Linked DNA regions of Homo sapiens: region 1 is linked to region 2. Evidence: fine-mapped expression QTL. A gene starts in region 2. The other region holds a variant in brackets. All regions are shown on one strand. Distances are between the middles of the regions. Region 1 has its middle 24 kb from the start of OCLN. Region 2 holds the start of OCLN (occludin).

The links. PIP is the estimated chance that this variant, and not a neighbour inherited with it, causes the effect.
Region 1: its variant is fine-mapped to the expression of OCLN in whole blood (TOPMed, PIP above 0.99).

What each region holds. Positions count from the first base shown.
Region 1 is chr5:69,463,881-69,473,225 of GRCh38, forward strand. It overlaps the pseudogene RPS27P14. Among named protein-coding and RNA genes, the nearest start is that of OCLN, 24 kb to the right of the region's middle. The variant C/T (reference allele first, on the strand shown) is at 3,552.
Region 2 is chr5:69,488,887-69,498,231 of GRCh38, forward strand. OCLN (occludin) reads left to right here and starts at 3,904. Exons shown (of 9, transcript NM_001205254.2): 1 at 3,904-4,014.

The DNA of each region.
Region 1 (9,345 bases), 25 kb before region 2:
TAGTCCCAGCTACTCTGGAGGCTGAGGCAGGAGGCAGAAGGATCACTTGAGCCCAGGAGTTCCAGGTTGCAGTGAGCCATGATCTCACCACTGCCCTCCAGCCTGGGCAACAGAGCAAGATCCTGTGAAAGAAAGAGAGAAAGAGAGAGAGAGACAGAATGAGAAAGAGAAGGAAGTACTATACTTTTACATGTATATAGTCCTTAGTCCTTATCATTTTTTTTTTTTTAAGATGGAGTCTTGCTCTGTCACCCAGGCTGGAGTGCAGTGGCACAATCTCGGCTCACTGCAACCTCCACCTCCCAGTTTCAAGTGATTCTCCTGCCTCAGCCTCCCGAGTAGCTGGGACTACAGTTGCCCACCACCATGCCTGGCTAAGTTTTTGTATTTTTAGTAGAGACGAGGTTTCACCATGTTGGTCAGGATGGTCTCGATCTCTTGACCTCGTGGTCCACCCGGCTTGGCCTCCCAAAGTGCTGGGATTACAGGCGTGAGCCACCGCTCCCGGCCCTATCCTTTCTTAAATACTTTCACATAACTCATCTCAGGATTGACAGACCTTGATAGCGCCTTAAATCCTGGAGAGAGAGAATTCTGAAGAGGCTACAATAGGATGGAATAGTCAGAACATTTTTGAAAAAAAACAGGTAAGACTGCAACCAGGCATGGTGGTTCATGCCTGTAATACCAGCATTTTGGGAGAACAAGGCGGGAGGATCACTGTAACCCAGGAGTTCAAGGCTGTGGTGAGCTATGATCACACCACGGCCCTCTAGCCTGGGTGACAGAGTCAGACTCCGTCTCTAAAAAAATAAAAATAAGGCCAAGGCGGGCGGATCATCTGAGGTCGGGAGTTCAAGACCAGCCTGACCAACATGGAGAAACCCTGTCTCTACTAAAAATACAAAATTAGCTGGGTGTGGTGACGCATGCCTGTAATCCCAGCTACTCGGGAGGCTGAGGCAGGAGAATTGCTTGAACCCGGGAGGCAGAGGTTGCGGTGAGCCGAGATCACGCCATTGCACTCCAGCTTGGGCAACAAGAGCATAACTCTGTCTCAAAAATAAATAAATATTAAAAAATAAAAATAGGCCGGGGTGCAGTGGCTCACGCCTGTAATCTCAGCACTTTGGGAGGCCAAGGTGGGTGGATCACGTGAGGTCAAGAGTTCAAGACCAGCCTTCCCAACATGGTGAAACCCTGTCTCTACTAAAAATACAAAAATTAGCCAGGTGTGGTGGCGTGCCCCTGTAATCCCAGCTACTCAGGTAGCTTAGGTGGGAGAATTGCTTGAACCCAGGAGGTGGAGGCTGCAGTGATCCGAGATCTTGCCGCTGCACTCCAGCCTGGGTGACAGAGCAAGACCCCATCAAAAAATAATAATAAATAATAATAAATAAAAATAAAGGTAAACAAATATCTCATTTAAGTTTACTCTGTTACCTAATATATTAGAAAGTCTTATCTTAAAGTTTTGTTGTCTTGAATCTTTTCTGTGGGGTCATAATTAAAATAAATCTTCCAACCCCTAAGTAAGTTCATATCTCCTATTGTTCAGGTAAGATAATTTTGAAGTCAACAGATTGTTGCTCTCTTACCTGACACAGCTGGGATCAGTAATTAGAATGTCAATTCAAAAAAGTAGATTAAAGCTAAACATCAAAAAGTGACATATGGGTGCCATAGTTTGTCTTAATTTTTTTTCATTTTTCATTTTTCATTAATTAATTTTTTTTAGAGACAGAGTCTCGCTCTGTTACCCAGGTTGGAGTGCAGTGGTGTGAACACGGCTCACTGCAGCCTTGACCTTGTGGGATTAAGTGATCCTCCCACCTCAGGATCCTGAGTAGCTAGGACCACAGGTGTGTGCCACCACGCCTGGCTAATTTTTAATTTTTTCATAGAGAGGGGGTCTTGCCATGCTGCCCAGGCTGGTCTCAAACTCCTGGGCTCACAGGATCCTCCAGCCTCAGCCTCCGAAAGTGTTGGGATTACAGGCGTGAGCCACCCTACCTAGCCAACATTTTTTTTTTCTAAAGCAACATCATTATGAGTCTTTTAACAATTAACTTGATTTTTATAGAAATACCTTTTTGTTTGTTTGTTTGTTTGTTTGGGACAGAGTCTCACTACGTCGCCCAGGCTGGAGTGCAATGGTGCGATCATAGCTCACTGTAACCTCTCCCTCCCAGGTTCAAAAGATTCTCCTGCTTCAGCTTCCTGAGTAGCTGGAATTACAGGTGCATGCCACCACACCTGACTAATTTTTGTATTTTTAGTAGAGACAGGATTTCATCATGTTGGCCTGGCTTGTCTCAAACTCCTGACCTCGTGATGCACCCACCTCCACCTCCCAAAGTGCTGGGATTACAGACATGAGCCACCGTGCCCAGCCTAGAAACACCTTTCTGTTGGGGTCATCATATTTTATTTTATGTTATTTGTGTGGTTTTTGTTTGTTTGTTTTTATGGCAGGGTCTCACTCTGTAGCCCAGGCTGGAATGCAGTGGCATTGAGAATTGAAGCCAGCTGGGCTTCTGGGTTGGGTGGGAACTTGGAGAACTTTTCTGTCTAGCTAGAGGATTGTAAACACACCAATCAGCACTCTGTGTCTAGCTAAAGGTTTGTAAACACACCAATCAGTACTCTAAATATGCACCAATCAGCGCTCTGTGTCTAGCTAAAGGTTTGTAAATGCACCAATCAACACTCTGTAAAAATGCACCAATCAGTGCTCTGTGACTAGCTAAAGGTTTGTAAACACACCAATCAGCACTCTGTAAAAATGGACCAATCAGCACTCTGTAAAATGGACCAATTAGCACTCTGTAAAATGGACCAATCAGCAGGACGTTGGCAGGGCCAAATAAGGGAATAAAAGCTGGCCACCGGAGCCAGCAGCAGCAACCAGTTCGGGTCCCCTTCCAGGCTGTGGAAGGTTTGTTCTTTTGCTCTTCACAATAAATCTTGCTGCTGCTCCCTCTGGGTCCGCACTACCTTTATGAGTTGTAACACTCACTGCGAAGGTCTGCAGCTTTGCTCCTGAAATCAGTGAGACCACGAACCCACCGGGAGGAACAAACAACGCTGGATGCGCCACATTTAAGAGCTGTAACACTCACTGCGAAGGTCTGCAGCTTCACTCCTGAAGTCAAGCTAGACCACGAGCCCACCGGAAGGAAGAAACTCTGGACATATCTGAACATCTGAAGGAACAAACTCCGGACACACTACGTGTAAGAACTGTAACACTCACCACGAGGGTCTGCAGCTTCATTCTTGAAGTTAGCGAGACCAAGAATCCACCGTAAGGAACCAATTCCGGACACAGCATGATCTCAGCTCACTGCAACCTCCACTTCCCAGGTTCAAGTGATTCTCCTGCCTCAGCCTCCTGAGTAGCTGGGTTTACAGGTGCATACGATCATGCCTGACTAATTTTTGTGTTTTTGGTAGAGACGGGGTTTCACCATGTTGGCCAGGCTGGTTTTGAACTGCTGACCTCAGGTGATCCACCCACTTTGGCCTATCCAAGTACTGGGATTATAGGC[C/T]TGAGCCACAGCAGCTGGCCCGCATCATATTTTATCATTTAAATAATATTTAATTAAATCATACACATACGTACACACATGTAGTAGCAAGTACAAGTGGGAATAACAGGTTTAGGTACAACACAACTATTGCTAACCACCCATCTCCACTATTGAGAGCAGAAGTAGTGTTCTCTAGAAACAGGCCTTCTAGGGTGCTGAGGTCATCATAAGATGCTTAAACTGAGCTTGTATGTTTCAGAATTAGCTGATATTTTTTAAATGGTCTCTTATTAAGTAAATAACTATCAAATTTCATAAGATATGAATTTGAGGACTGAAACTGTATTAGTCAGAACGGCTTTGGTTTCTAATAACAGAAACTCAAATCAGCTTATGCATACAAGGGACTCTTTTGAATTAGAGAACTGAGAAGTTTAGGAGCTGACTTGGCTTCAGGGTTCCCTTTCAGTCTGTTTCTCTCATCTTCACTGCTTCTCACAGCATATTTAGTCTCATGCTGTCATGTTTAGACTTTCTCTGTGTAACTGCGGAAGATGCCTGGTGTCAGCTCCAGTACATAAGCACGTAGTGGGTTACAGGGAAGTGGCTCTCTTCCAGCAGCTTTCTATCATGTCTCTGGAAGCGTCTGATAGGTCTTGGTTTGGGTTATGTGTCCATCTTTGAACCTATCACCACATCAGATGAGGCAGCCTGGATCTCATATCCGCTAATGTGTGGGCAGAACACAATCCCGTCAGGACCTCATGGAATGGAAGAAAGATAAGGTTTTTTTTTCTTTTTCTTTTTCTTTTTTTTTTTTTGAGATGGAGTCTCACTCTGTTGCCTAGGCTGGAGTGCAGTGGTGCGATCTTGGCTCACTGCAATCTCTGCCTCCCGGGTTCACGCCATTCTCCTGCCTCAGCCTCCAGAGTAGCTGGGACTACAGGCGCCTGGCACCACGCCTGGCTAATTTTTTTGTATTTTTAGTAGAGACGAGGTTTCACCGTGTTAGCCAGGATGGTCTTGATCTCCTGACCTCGTGATGCACCCACTTGACCTCCCAAAGTGCTGGGATTACAGGCATGAGCCACTGCGCTGGGCTGAAGAAGGGTGAGTTATAAATGAAAAGCTGCATGTGTGCTCTAATAGAAGCTAGACATGCAAAAACCACAGATGCCTCCAGCATAGACCATGCTTTTGTTACCATAATAGCAGGTATTCAGTCTAAGTCCTGCTCCTCATAGCACAGAAAACCAATCACTGAGACAATGAGTATTGCCAAGGAAGAAAGCTTTAATTGGGTGCTGCAGCTGAAGACATGGGAACTAGTCTCAAATTCATCTCCTGACTGACTATAATTAGGGGTTAATCTAGCAGGGAAGAAATGTAACTATGCATGGGAAAACAGGAACTCAACTTGAGAGGGGTAAGGAAGCAATCATGATGAATGAAGGGCCTGGTGTCTCATTGTCTGGATGCAACGATCTGGTGAGTTTCAGTTCTTTTTCTTCAGGTACTTTTTGAGAGGCTTTTGAGGGTCCTTTCCTGAGGAAGGAACTCAGATAATACAAATGTAAGGTTCAAGCTTAAGACCAGAACTGTCTATGGGACTATTGAGTTGGTTTCACCTTAGCTATTCTTTAATTCCCTCCTAAGACCAAGCCCATGGAAGCAGCTTGCCCTTAAATATTGAATGGCTCAACTGCTAGTAGCACTTTATTCTTCCAAACATTTTCACAGACTGATAAGGTTTGGATGTTTTGTCTCTTCCAAATCTTATGATGAAATGTGATCCCCACTGTTGGAGGTGGGCTAGTGTGAGGTGTTTGGGTCATGGGGGCAGATTCCTCATAAATGGGTTAGTGCTGTCCTCACAATAATAAGGGAGTTCTCGCTCTGAGAGCTCTTGAGAGCTCTGGTTGTTTAAAAAAGTGTGGCACCTCCTCCACCTCCACCACTCACTCTCACCATGTGACATGTCTGCTCCTGTTTTGCCTTCTGCTATGAGTAAAAGCTCCCTAAGGCCTCACTAGAAGCCAAGCAGATGCTGGTGCCATGTTTCCTATACAGCCTGCAGAACGGTGAGCCAATTAAACCTCTTCTTTTTCCTCTCTCCTTTTTTTTTGAGACGGAGTTTCACTCTTGTCGCCCAGGCTGGAGTGCAATGGTGCAATCTCAGCTCACTGCAACCTCCGCCTCCCAGGTTCAAGCGATTCACCCGCCTCAGCCTCCCAAGTAGCTGGGATTACAGGTGCCCGCCATCACGCCCAGCTAATTTTTGTATTTGTAGTAGAAATGGGGTTTCACCATTTTGGCCAGGCTGGTCTTGAACTCCTGACCTCAGGTGATCCGCCCACCTCGGCCTCCCAAAGTGCTGGGATTACAGGCGTGAGCCACTGTGGCCGGCCACCTCTTTTCTTTGCGAATTACCCAGTCTTTTTCCAGCGGTGACGACCTACCCAGGAGAACATGCCTCTCACAAAGGATCTCCTTCATCCCTCTCCAGAATAGGGGAAGAGGAAACACAAGAAGCAGTGCCTGATGCAGAGCCCCAATTCCTACTTCATGGGTGTAAATGCCCAGGATGGTACAAAATCATCACAGTCTTTAGCCATGCACTAACAGAAATTTTGTGTGTTGGCTGCTCCACTGTCCTCTGCCAGCCTACAGAAAGAAAAGCAAGGCTTACAGAAGGATGTTCCTTCAGGAGGAAGCAGCATTAAAAAGCACTCCGAATCAAGATGAGTGGGAAATCATCTCAATAAACACTTTTTTTTTTTTGAGACTGAGTTTCACTCTTGTCGCCCAGGCTGCAGTGCAGTGGTGTGAGCTTGGCTCACTGCGACCTCCGCCTACCAGGTTCAAGCAATTCTCCTGCCTCAGCCTCCTGAGTATCTGGGATTACAGGCATGCGCCACTATGCCCGGCTTATTTTGGGGTTTCATCATGTTGGCCAGGCTGATCTTGAACTCCTGACCTCAGGTGATCTGCTCACCTCGACATTCTAAAGTGCTGAGGTTACAGGCATGAGCCACTGTGCCTGGCCTCAATAAACACATTTTGGATAAAAAATAAATAAATTACCCAGTCTCTGATATTTCTTTATAGCAATGCAAATGGACTAACACAGAGACATTATTGTGAGTGGTAAAGGCAGATTAAATGTCTTGCTTAGAATTACACAGCTGCTACTTGACTTCAAATTATACTATGAGACTACAGTAACCAAAACAGCATGGTACTGGTACCAAAACAGATACATAGACCAATGGAACAGAACAGAGGTCTCAGAAATAACACCACACATCTACAACCATCTGATCTTTGACAAACCTGACAAAAACAAGCAATGAGAAAAGGATTCCCTATTTAATAAATGGTGCTGGGAAAACTGGCTAGCCATATGGAGAAAACTGAAACTATACCCCTTCCTTATAGCTTATACAAAAACTAAGTCAAGATGGATTAAAGACTGAAACATAAGACCTAAAACCGTAAAAACCCTAGAAGAAAACCTAGGCAATACCATTCAGGACATAGGCATGGGCAAAGAGTTCATGACTAAAACACCAAAAACAATTGCAACAAAAGCCAAAATTGAGAAATGGGATCTAATCAAACTAAAGCGCTTCTGCACAGCAAAAGAAACTATCATCAGAGTGAACAGGCAATCTACAGAATGGGAGAAAATGTTTGCAATCTATCCATCTGACAAGGTCTAATATCCAGAATCTACAAGGAACTTAAACAAATTTACAAGAAAAAAACAAAGAACCCCATCAAAAAGTGGGCAAAGGATATGCACAGACACCTCTCAAAAGAAGACATTTATGCAGTCAACAAACATATGAAAAAAAGCTCATCATCACTGGTCATTAGAGAAATGCAAATCAAAACCACAATAAGATACCATCTCATGGCACATGTATACCCGTTAGAATGGTAATCATTAAAAAGTCAGGAAACAACAGATGCTGGAGAGGATGTGGAGAGAAATAGGAATGCTTTCACCCTGTTGGTATGAGTGTAAACTAGTTCAACCATTGTGGAAGATAGTGTGGCGATTCCTTAAGGATCTAGAACCAGAAATACCATTTGACCCAGCAATCCTGTTACTGGGTATACACCCAAAGGATTATAAATCATTCTATAAAGACACATGCACATGCATGTTTATTGCAGCACTATTCACTATAGCAAAGACTTAGAACCAACCCGAATTCCCATCAATGATAGACTGGATAAAGAAAATGTGGCACATATACACCATGGAATACTATGCAGCCATAAAAAAGAATGATTCACGTTGTTTGCAGGGACATGGATGAAGCTGGAAACCAACGTTCTCAGCAAACTAACACGGGAACAGAAAACCAAACACTGCATATTCTCGCTCATAAGTGGGAGTTGAACAATGAGAATACATGGACACAGGGAGGGGAACGTCACATACCAGGGCCTGTAGGGGGGTGGGGGAGAAGGGGAGGGAGAACATTAGGACAAATACCTAATGCATGCGGGTCTTAAAACCTAGATGACGGGTTGATGGGTGCAGCAAACCACCATGGCACATGTATACCTATGTAACAAACCTGCATGCTCTGCACATGTATCCCAGAACTTAAAGTATAATTTAAAAAAACTACGCAGCTGATTTCTGACAGAGCTGAGTTCATAACTGGATTTCCTTTGGATGTTTCCCTCTTTTCTTCTCTTGTGTTGCCAGAACTGATATCAAAGGGAAGGAATACAAGAGAAATATTCAATTTCACTACTTCTTTGATAGTTTGATATGTTGTCCCTAGAAGGCCATGATAATGATATGTTGTCTCTAACTTTCAGGCTAATTATAGGTACAGATAATGGGTGGTTATTTGGACTATTTTAAAAAATAGAGACAGGTTCTCACTATGTTGCCCAGGCTGGTCTCGAACTCCATGGCTCAAGTGATCCTCCCGCCTTGGCTTCCCAAAGTGCTGGGATTACAGGTGTGAGCCACCACACCCAAACTTTTTTTTTTTAATAGGTTCTCACTTTGTCACCCAGGCTGGGGTGCTGTGGTGTGATCATGGCTCACTGCAGCCTCAACCTCTTGAGCTCAAGCAATCTTCCCACCTCAGCCTACCAAGTAGTTGGGACTACAGGTGCTTGCCACCACACCCGGCTAATTTTAAAACTTTTTTCGTGGAGATAAGGTCTTGTGCTGCCCAGCTTGATCCTGGATTCCTGGGTTCCAGTGATCCTCCCACCTCGGCCTCCCCCAGTGTGGAGATTACAGGCATGAGCCATTGTACCCAGTCTATTTGTCCGATTGATTTATTGAGTTGTGGAGTTTGCTGAAGGAAACCGCACCTATGTTTTTGTTTCTAAGGCTAATATTTTCCCTTATGTTTGACAATACATTGATGTGCTAAGACTCTGCAGTGAAAATAGTTTTTTTTTTTTTTTTTTTTTGAGACAGAGTTTTGCTTTTGTTGCCCAGGCTGGAGTGCAATGGTGCGATCTCGGCTCACCGCAACCTCCGCCTCCCGGGTCCAAGCCATTCTCCTGCCTCAGCCTCCCGAGTAGCTGAAATTACAGACATGCGCCACCACGCCCAGCTAATTTTGTATTTTTAGTAGAGACGGGGTTTCTCCATGTTGGTCGGGCTGATCTTGAACTCCCGACCTCAGGTGATCTGCCCACCTCAGACTCCCAAAGTGCTGAGATTACAGGTGTAAGCCACCATGCCCGGCCTGAAGATAGTTTCTTAAAGGCAGTGTGGTATATTGGACATAATGTAAGATATACAGTCAAACTGTGTTTGAATCTC
Region 2 (9,345 bases):
CCAGCCTGGGCTACGGAGGAGACTCTGTTTCAAAACAAACAAACAGAAAACCAAAAAAACACTTAGCATAGTACTTAGAACATGTTTTTCCCTGAGTAAATGGTGCTATTATTATTCTTCCACCTGTTGAAGTTCCTGTTCAGGTGCTGAGTCTCTTTGTTTAAATATGGATTCCTCCCAGGAGGATCTTGCTTAACACATAGGAATAGAGAAGATAAAGGTTTACTCATCTAGTGTAATCATCCTTTTAGAAATTGTCTTCCTAGTGGCTTCCCCATAAATTCTTCCATACACCTGTCCAAGGAAACTGTCCTGTGTGGACCAGAAGCCTCCCCCTCCTCATGACTGGGCAGAGAAACTAGAGGCCTTTCAGGCCAGGCCCTCAGCAACTCCAAACTGAGTTGCCTTGGACACATACCAGTCTTTGAATTCATTTACTAAGCAGGCAAGGCAGAGTGGAAACAGTGGAACTATGTTAATCTCCCGTCTTTTCTCCTCTAAACCCTAGTACTAGAGATGTAAGCCTTGAAATGCTACTAAGGAACGTGCGGGTTTCACAATAGCAGGAGGCCATCTGAGAGGAGGACAAGACTCCACAGGCATGTTGGATTTGGGAAGCAGGGCTATAGTCATTCATTCATTCATCCAACACATAGTTATGTAATTCCTATGTGACAGGAACTATTTCAGGCATATAGGATACAGCAATGGCTTGCTCAATTTATTGAGACTTGTTTCGTGGCTCAGCATATAGTCTGTCTTGGTGAATGCTCCACATTCCCACCAACAGACTTATAAAGACAGTATTGTTTATTATCATCTCAAATTTACGGTGGAAAAAAATGAACCTTACATAGTTTAATTTCCTTTAGTCCTACCCAGCTACCAAGTAGCAACACTGGAATTTGAACTGAGATTTCTGACACCATAATCTGAGCTCTTAAGTTTCTCTTTTACACATAGAAAAGGAGAAACAAATTGTCTTTTCATCTTATCCATTTGACTGCAGGTAAAGTCAACAAGTTTCTAATCATGGGGTTCTGAAAATAATATTTACATTGCTCTGAGTCACGGGGATTTTCATCAAATAATATTCAATAGTGGATACTACTCAATACTACTGTGAGTTGCCAAGAAGGAATATTTGGTAAAAAATATAGTAATTAAATTTTGCTATAATTTATGATTATGTAACATGATTAAATTGAGCATGGCATCATTTAACATCCAACAAATTTTGTTTTGGTATTGAAGAATGATGTGTTTAAGTTTTAAGGCTGGATTTTCTTTCTAGACACTTTCAACTATGAAATATACACAATATTGGACAATAGTTAACCGTTCTTTTGATGTTGTTGTTTAGAAAATTAATCTCAAGCGAATAAAATAGAATTCATACAATTAATGAATCCTATTATTCCATATGGATGAACTCAGAACTAACTAGAAAGTAAGTTTCACAGAGATTTTTGAGTTTTGTTCACTCGTGTGTGTACAGATTAGGCACTCAGAAAATAGTTGAAGGAATGAATTGGGAAAGCAAATAGAATATGAAAGCCTTCTACCCAACACAACATGTCTTTGAGTTTAGGTTTAGGGTGGGAATAAGAAAAATAACATGATATGCATAAGTTATCTTAAAATGATAAAAAGTTTAATTTAAAAACCTAATTTACCAAGAGAACCGAAAACATATGTCCACACAAAAACTTGTACACAAATGTTCATAGTAACATTATTCATAACATCCCCAAAGGAGAAACAACCCAAATGTTCATCAACAGATGAATGATTAAACGAAATGTGATACATCGATACAATGGAATATTATTCAGTTATAAAAAGGAATGAAGTACCAATACATACTACATCATGGATGAACCTTTAAAATATTATGCTAAGTGAAAGAAGACAGACACAAAGGGCACATATTGTATTATCCATTCATATAAAATGTCCAGAATAGGCAAATTAATAGAGACAGAAAGTACATTAGTGGTTGCCGAGGGATGAGGGGAGAGGGGAAATGGGGAGTGACTATTAATGGGCATGGGGTTTCTTTTGGGGGCGATTAAAATGGAATTAGATGGTGGTGATGGTTGTACAATCTGGTGAGTATACTAAAACCCACTGAATTGTACGTGCCCTTTAAAAGGGTGAATTTTATGGTATGTGAACTCTCTTTTATAAAGTGGAAAAAAACTCCTAAGATCTCTTCAGAACATGTCAAAATACATTATAAAATAATAGACATGTGTTTACAAATCTGAGAGTATTAGGAAATGTTCCCTTGTTTAATTATAAACCAAATGGAATGTTTGGAGATTTCAGTAATCTGACAGGGAACATTAAGGGGATTAACCTGACTTCCCCAGTGTTAACAATACCAATTTAAACTGCATCATTCAAAAACTACATAGTCATATTAAAGCATTTGTAGCAATGACTTCCACGAAAAAAATACCAATTAAATTAATTACCCATTAAAGCTGCCATCATCTGAAATACCTCATATTTATATAGTGCTTTTACTTCCTCAAGTATGAATTGTGCCTTAAGATCTAATGTATGGGAGAGTCACATCTCTAACCATTTAATTAAAGGTAGAGAAGTGGGTGGGATTGGATAGAAATTTATTAGCAATGCTGACATTCCAGATTGGAACACAAAGACAAGCAGGATGTAAGAAACCTAAAAGTTCGCTTTCAATGCAGATAGTTAAATGCCAAGAACTATAATTGCCACATCCTGGAGTACAATTAAAAAATATGTTGAAAAACAACCAACATACATAAAAATATACACAGTGTTAAGTGCAGACTATGAAATTTCCCTTGGAAACAGAATCCAGATCAAGAAATAGAATACAGCACCCGGAACTAAGGTGCTTTTTCGTTTTCTTAAAAAAAAAAAAAAAGTAAACCAAGTTTATTTTGCTTTTTAAGTAGTGTTGTTCTTAAAGCACTACAGGTTGGTAAACAACGTATAAGGTGCTTTTTCTCAGGCCAAAGAGCCATAATAGTTTAAATTTCCCGGTCCTCAAGAGCGGACCGGGTGGGCAGGAGAGGACCCTGGGGTGGTGATGTGTAAACTGTATTATGCACTTTAGCCTGCTGGATGGCAACTAACACCTACAGTAGTTCACCCTCATTTTAACCCCTCTAAGTAATTGTCTCTTATTCTGAATCTAGAGATTCAGAAACAGCGCCAATGTTTACACACGACTTTTGAAATTTTCCCAGGAGTCTTTCGTTGGAGCAATACATCTAGATGCCTTTTTCCAGCAACAGTTTAATCAAATTCTGGAAGCAGAAAAGTGTCCTGTGAGGACGTGCCTTTCCTATCAAAGTGCTGAGTGCCTGGACCCTCTTTCCGGAGGAAACAGTCCCCTCTGGACCTCGTTCGGCCTCTCTCCATCAGACACCCCAAGGTTCCATCCGAAGCAGGCGGAGCACCGAACGCACCCCGGGGTGGTCAGGGACCCCCATCCGTGCTGCCCCCTAGGAGCCCGCGCCTCTCCTCTGCGCCCCGCCTCTCGGGCCGCAACGTCGCGCGGTTCCTTTAACAGCGCGCTGGCAGGGTGTGGGAAGCAGGACCGCGTCCTCCCGCCCCCTCCCATCCGAGTTTCAGGTGAATTGGTCACCGAGGGAGGAGGCCGACACACCACACCTACACTCCCGCGTCCACCTCTCCCTCCCTGCTTCCTCTGGCGGAGGCGGCAGGAACCGAGAGCCAGGTCCAGAGCGCCGAGGAGCCGGTCTAGGACGCAGCAGGTGGGACTCGCGGCGCTGGCCCGCAGGCTTCCCGCACCCCCTTCCACGTTGGTGCGCATGCCCGGGGGCAGGGCCGGTTGTAGGGAGGAGGGAAAGGAGAGGGAGAAGGGGGAGGAGACGTCCCCAGCCCAGTCCCCGGCTGAGCGCTGGCGGTCGGTGCGGCGTCAGGTGCGCCCGCCAGGTGAGCGCGCTCCCTGGCACCGTTGGCCCCCGGAGGGTCGGGCCCAGTTGCGGCGAGCGGGTGAGTGTTGGGCGCGGCGTCAGGGGCGCACGGGAGCCCGAGGGTCCCCGTGGGGGGACCGCGGCGACTATGTTAGGGGAGGTGCCGGGGGGAGGACGCTCCGCGCTGGTTTCGGTGGCAGTTTCGTCCCCGAGCTGGGACTCGTGGGAACCAGAGAGGCGCGGGTCTGCGGAGAGAGCAGCACCGGCCAACTTGGGAGGCTGCCTCCTGGGGCGAGGGGTGGCTTGGAGCCGCCGATCAAGCTTTATTCCGCGGAAACGCTGAAAGCTAGCAGTGCCTCAGCGGCGCGGGCAACTTTTCACTTTTATGGGGCACGACATTCCTGAACAGCGACGATCCTGCATCCGCTCTGGGGCTGCAGTTTGGGGGGGCGGCCTTCATGGAGAGGGATCCTGCGCCCAGCTCCTTGGGGGTCCTAAGCCTGAGGCTGCAGCGAGGCGGCTGTTCGGCGGCCCGGGCGGCTTAGATCCCGGGGGGAATTTCATTCCTTCCGCTCCCACCCCACCCCTTTGGATATCCCGGGGAGACGGGGGCTGGATTCAATCTGTGAAATATTCCAGGAGTCACGGTGTGGGCCACACTGGCTACTTCGAATCCACTTGTTGCGAGTTGTGTGAACCCGCGTCGATTTAAGCTGGGGGGCGGGGAGTTAATTTCGAGTGAGGCTGGACTTCGAGGGAAGCTGCTCACGCTTCGGATTCTCATCCGTGACCAAAAGGGCTGCCCCCAGGGGGGCGGAACTGCCTCCGGGCGGTGCCTGCCCGGCGAACGTGGGCGCGCGCTGCCTGGGAGCGCCTCGGTGCGCACGGAAGCCGGGACCCGCGCCCAGCCGGGCCACGGAGTTTGGGGACCTCCGGGACTGGGCCGGCCCCGCGCGCCAGCCATGTTGCCTGCGTCGGAGGAAGCGTGCGGGGAGCAGGGGTCGAGGGCCAAGATGGCCTCTGCGCCTAGGGGTTGGGAGCGGCGCCGAGCCCCTCGCGCTCCTCGGGAAGCCACCGGGCCCGAGGGAAAAGCCGCGGCATCCTTAGGCCGGACCCGGGGCTCGCTGGCCACACTGCCCGCTTGGGGAATTACCCTGCTCGAGGAGGAGGCGGCGGCTTTCCAGGCCAGTCAGTGTGTGGCCCTTAGGCAACAGGTGTATTATTGGGATACCTGGAAAAGAGAAACGTTTCCCATGAAGGCACTTATGGTGTTTTTTGGTGATTCTTGGTGTGATAGAAAACTAGGCGTTCCCAAGTGTAACAATAGTAACAGTAGTTCTTTTGCACTGTACATATGAGGTGCTTGTGTGTGTGTGTGTGTGTGTTTTTCCGAGACGGAGTCTGGCTCTGTCCCCCAGTGCAGTGGCATCATCTGGGCTCACTGCAACCTCTGCCTCCCGGGTTCAAGCGATTCTCCTGCTCAGCCTCCCGAATAGCTGGGATTACAGGCACCCACTAGTATGCACAGCTAATTTTTGTATTTTTAGTAGAGACAGGGTTTTGCCATTTGGTCAGGCTGGTCTCGAACTCCTGACCTCAGGTGATTCGCCCGCCTTGGCCTCCCAAAGTGCTGGGATTACAGGCGTAAGCCACCACACCCAGCCTTTATGAATATTTTCTTAGTGGTGCTTTAAAATAGACATCTTAAGTGTGTGTGGGAGGCAGAGATATTTCCTCAAACAAAGCAACACTTTTTTTTTGGTCGTTTTGCAATTTATTTAGTTATTAGGGGCCTCCTTTGTTAGGTGACGGAGCAGAGGATAGGGAGATCGGTAAGACATGATTCTCCACCTTTTGGCAGTTTCCAGGCCATTTCGGGAAATAGTGGGCAGCAGTGCCTCCTGCACGTGAGGCACTGTGGTAAAAGCATTCTGTATTTTCTCATTTAATTATCCCAACAACTCTAAAAGGCAGGCCTTAGTAGAACTCCATTTTAAAAGTGGGCAAATGCCGTGGGGGAAACGTTGCAGGTGGGCTTGCTTGCAAACTGCTTCAGCTAATATGGGAAGGAGTATCAGAAGCAGCGGTCCTTGATATTCCAGAACCAGATTTGGGGAATTTTTCTGGACTTTTCTACCATTGACTAGTAACTGTAGCCTGATACAAGATTTCCCGCATTTTGCTTGATATCAAGGTAAAATTCTTGTTTTCTTCTAAAGGTAGTGTTGGAATTACTACCTTTTCAAAATAGTATATTACTTTTAACCACATAAATGATCTGATGTAATATCTTTCATCTTCCTAGGAACCTCCCAGAAGGAAGTTTTCTTCAGTTGCATTTTAAGGCTTATTTGATTGGAATATTAATGGATCTTTTTCATCAAATTACTATTTATGGAAATAAGAGAGTAAACAGACCATGCAGATTTATGTTAGGCTTTTTGTTTTAACCCCTAGGCTTGCCGCTGTTCCGTAACCCAGTGATTCCAGTCTTGGCTGTGGTATGAATCACTTAGGGATCCTATTAAAACACAGATTCTGATTGGGAGGTCAGGAGTGGGGCCTGGGATTCTGCCTTTCTAACAGGCTCACAGGTGATTCTCAGACTGTTCTGTCTTCTTTTTCTCCCTTTCTCTTAGACTCTACGCACTTAATTACATTTGACAAACTGAAGTTGGAAAAAATAACGTTTATTGAGTGTTGTGTGAAGAACTTCAAGGCATTCACTGCTGGATTGAAATCCCAACTCTAATAATTGACTGTTGGTTTTATTAATTGAGTACTCATTGACAATCACTTTGTGCCAGGGCTAGTTCCAGCGACCAGGGATATAAATGATGGTCAAAATAGACATTTGATGTCTGGGATATGGGCATTCCAGATGCGGTGGAGATGATACCTATATTTTAGGTATGAGGGCAGAGGGGAGTTTGCTCTGAAAAAAAAAACAAGTTTTGTGTGATGGAGTGAGGGACAGGGAGGGCATCTCCCAGAAGGTGACGTCTGAGCTGAGACCTGAACAGCAGGTGTCTGTTGTGTAAAAGATCTGGGCTTTCTAGACAGGAAATTGCAAGATCAATGTCCTTTTTGGATTGACACCTTTATTGTAGACAGCAATTCTCAAAATATGTGATGTGTTTAAAAATCACCTGGAAGATTTATTAAAAATACAATTTCTGACACAGAGTCTATTACAAAATCTGCCTAACTTCAAATTTTTAGACAATTTACTAATGATGTGCCTGTAGTCTAAATCATTTAATATAAGGCACAACTTAAACTTTTTTTTTTTTTTTTGAGACAGAGTCTCGCTGTCTCCCAGGCTGGAGTGCAGTGGCACGATCTTGGCTTACTGCAAGCTCCGCCTCCCGGGTTCACACCATTCTCCTGCCTCGGCCTCCCGAGTAGTTGGGACTACAGGCGCCTGCCACCATGCCCAGCTAATTTTTTGTATTTTTAATAGAGGCGGGGTTTCACTGTGTTAGCGGGGATGGTCTCGATCTCCTGACCTCGTGATCCTCCCGTCTCGGCCCCCCAAAGTGCTGGGATTACAGGCGTGAGCCACCGCGCCCGGCCACAACTTAAACTTTTTAAAGGCAAATTGACAGTTACTGCATGTGCTCTAAAAGGAACAGACTTCTCTTAAATACAATAAAGTTTATTTTTCACTTATTGACAGTTTTCTTTAAAGAATAATTTGAGGCCAAAGCATTTTCAGACTATTTTTTCTTTTTTTATACTTTTTTTTTTTTTTTTTTTTTAAGATAGATAACGGAGTCTTACTCTGTTGCCCAGCCTGATCTTGAAGTTCTGGGCTCAAACAATCCCTCTGCCTTGGCTTCCCAAAGTACTGGGATTACAAGTGTGAGCCACCTTGCCCAGCCTCAGCCTGTTTTTTTCATCTTAGCTTAGTTTTCCATTAAGACAGCTTTTGGTCAGTAAACATTGTCAAGGGGAGAACACTTTATATTTTATCATTAGCCCAAGATGCTGGTTTTCAGATTAACATATTTGACAAGGATCTATCTGCTGCTTCCCTTTTGCCCCCGACTCTAATTTAGCTGTCTGACTTCTGTCCTTGTCACTCTCCTGACATAAGTTCCTGTAGGTGATAAGTGGCCTCTTCATTCTCATTTTTTCCTTCACTCAACACATGTACAGATTGTTAATGTTGCTGTGCTGGGCATTGGTCCTCTTTCACCTTTGGCTGCTGGCCTTAAAGCACAGTCACAGATTCACTTTGAAAGAGACCTTAGAAGTCTTCCAGTCTGGTCTCCAAAAAAATATCAAATAACTTAAGCTTTGCATAAATTGCATGAGCTCAAATTGTTGTTAGTTATTTTCGGAGAGGGTGTGGGGTCAGGGTGAGGGAGAGGCTTCCTAACATTGAGATGAAATCAGCCTGTGGTTTTTGGAATTTTTTTTTTTTAACCATTTCTAGGATAACAAAGACAGCTCTTCATATATTTCAGGGCTGCTAAAGCGATTCTTCTGACGTTAAGTTCTCCAGGCCAAACATTTCCTGTTTTTCCAATCATTTGTCTTAAGACATGGTTTTTCTAGATTTTTTTTTTTTTTTTTTTTTGAGCCAGAGTCTCACTGTGTCGCCAGGCTGGAGTGCGGTGGCACAATCTTGGCTCACTGCAACCTCTGCCTCCTGGGTTCAAGCAATTCTCCTGCCTCAGCCTCCCAAGTAGCTGGGATTACAAGCACACACCACCATGCCCAACTAATTTTTGTATTTTTAGTAGAGACGAGGTTTCACCGTGTTGGCCAAGATGGTCTCGATCTCCTTGTGATCCACCCGCCTCGTCCTCCCAAAGTGCTGGGATTACAGGCGTGAGCCACGGTGCCTGGCCAGCTTTTCTAGATCTTTAATGATCTTAGTCACCCTCCTGGAGAGGCACATAGTTTAGAATGTGATGTACAAATCAGGTTTTGTTTGTTCTTTTTAATAGCATATTATTCCTAGATATGAGCACTATTTCTGTGAATAAAGTTTGGGATAGGTTGTTAGCTTTTGTTGAAATTCTTACCAAAGAAATGCACCTTTAAAAATGAACCACTTTGGGAGGCCGAGGCGGGCGGATCACGAGGTCAGGAGATCGAGACCATCCCGGCTAAAACGGTGAAACCCCGTCTCTACTAAAAATACAAAAAATTAGCCGGGCGTAGTGGCGGGCGCCTGTAGTCCCAGCTACTTGGGAGGCTGAGGCAGGAGAATGGCGTGAACCCGGGAGGCGGAGCTTGCAGTGAGCCGAGATCCCGCCACTGCACTCCAGCCTGGGCGACAGAGCGAGACTCCGTCTCAAAAAAAAAAAAGAACGATTATTAAATTAGTTCTCCTCTATACTGTACTATGGAATTGACTTTTTAAAAATTCAGTTTATGGCTGGGCATGGTGGCTCAT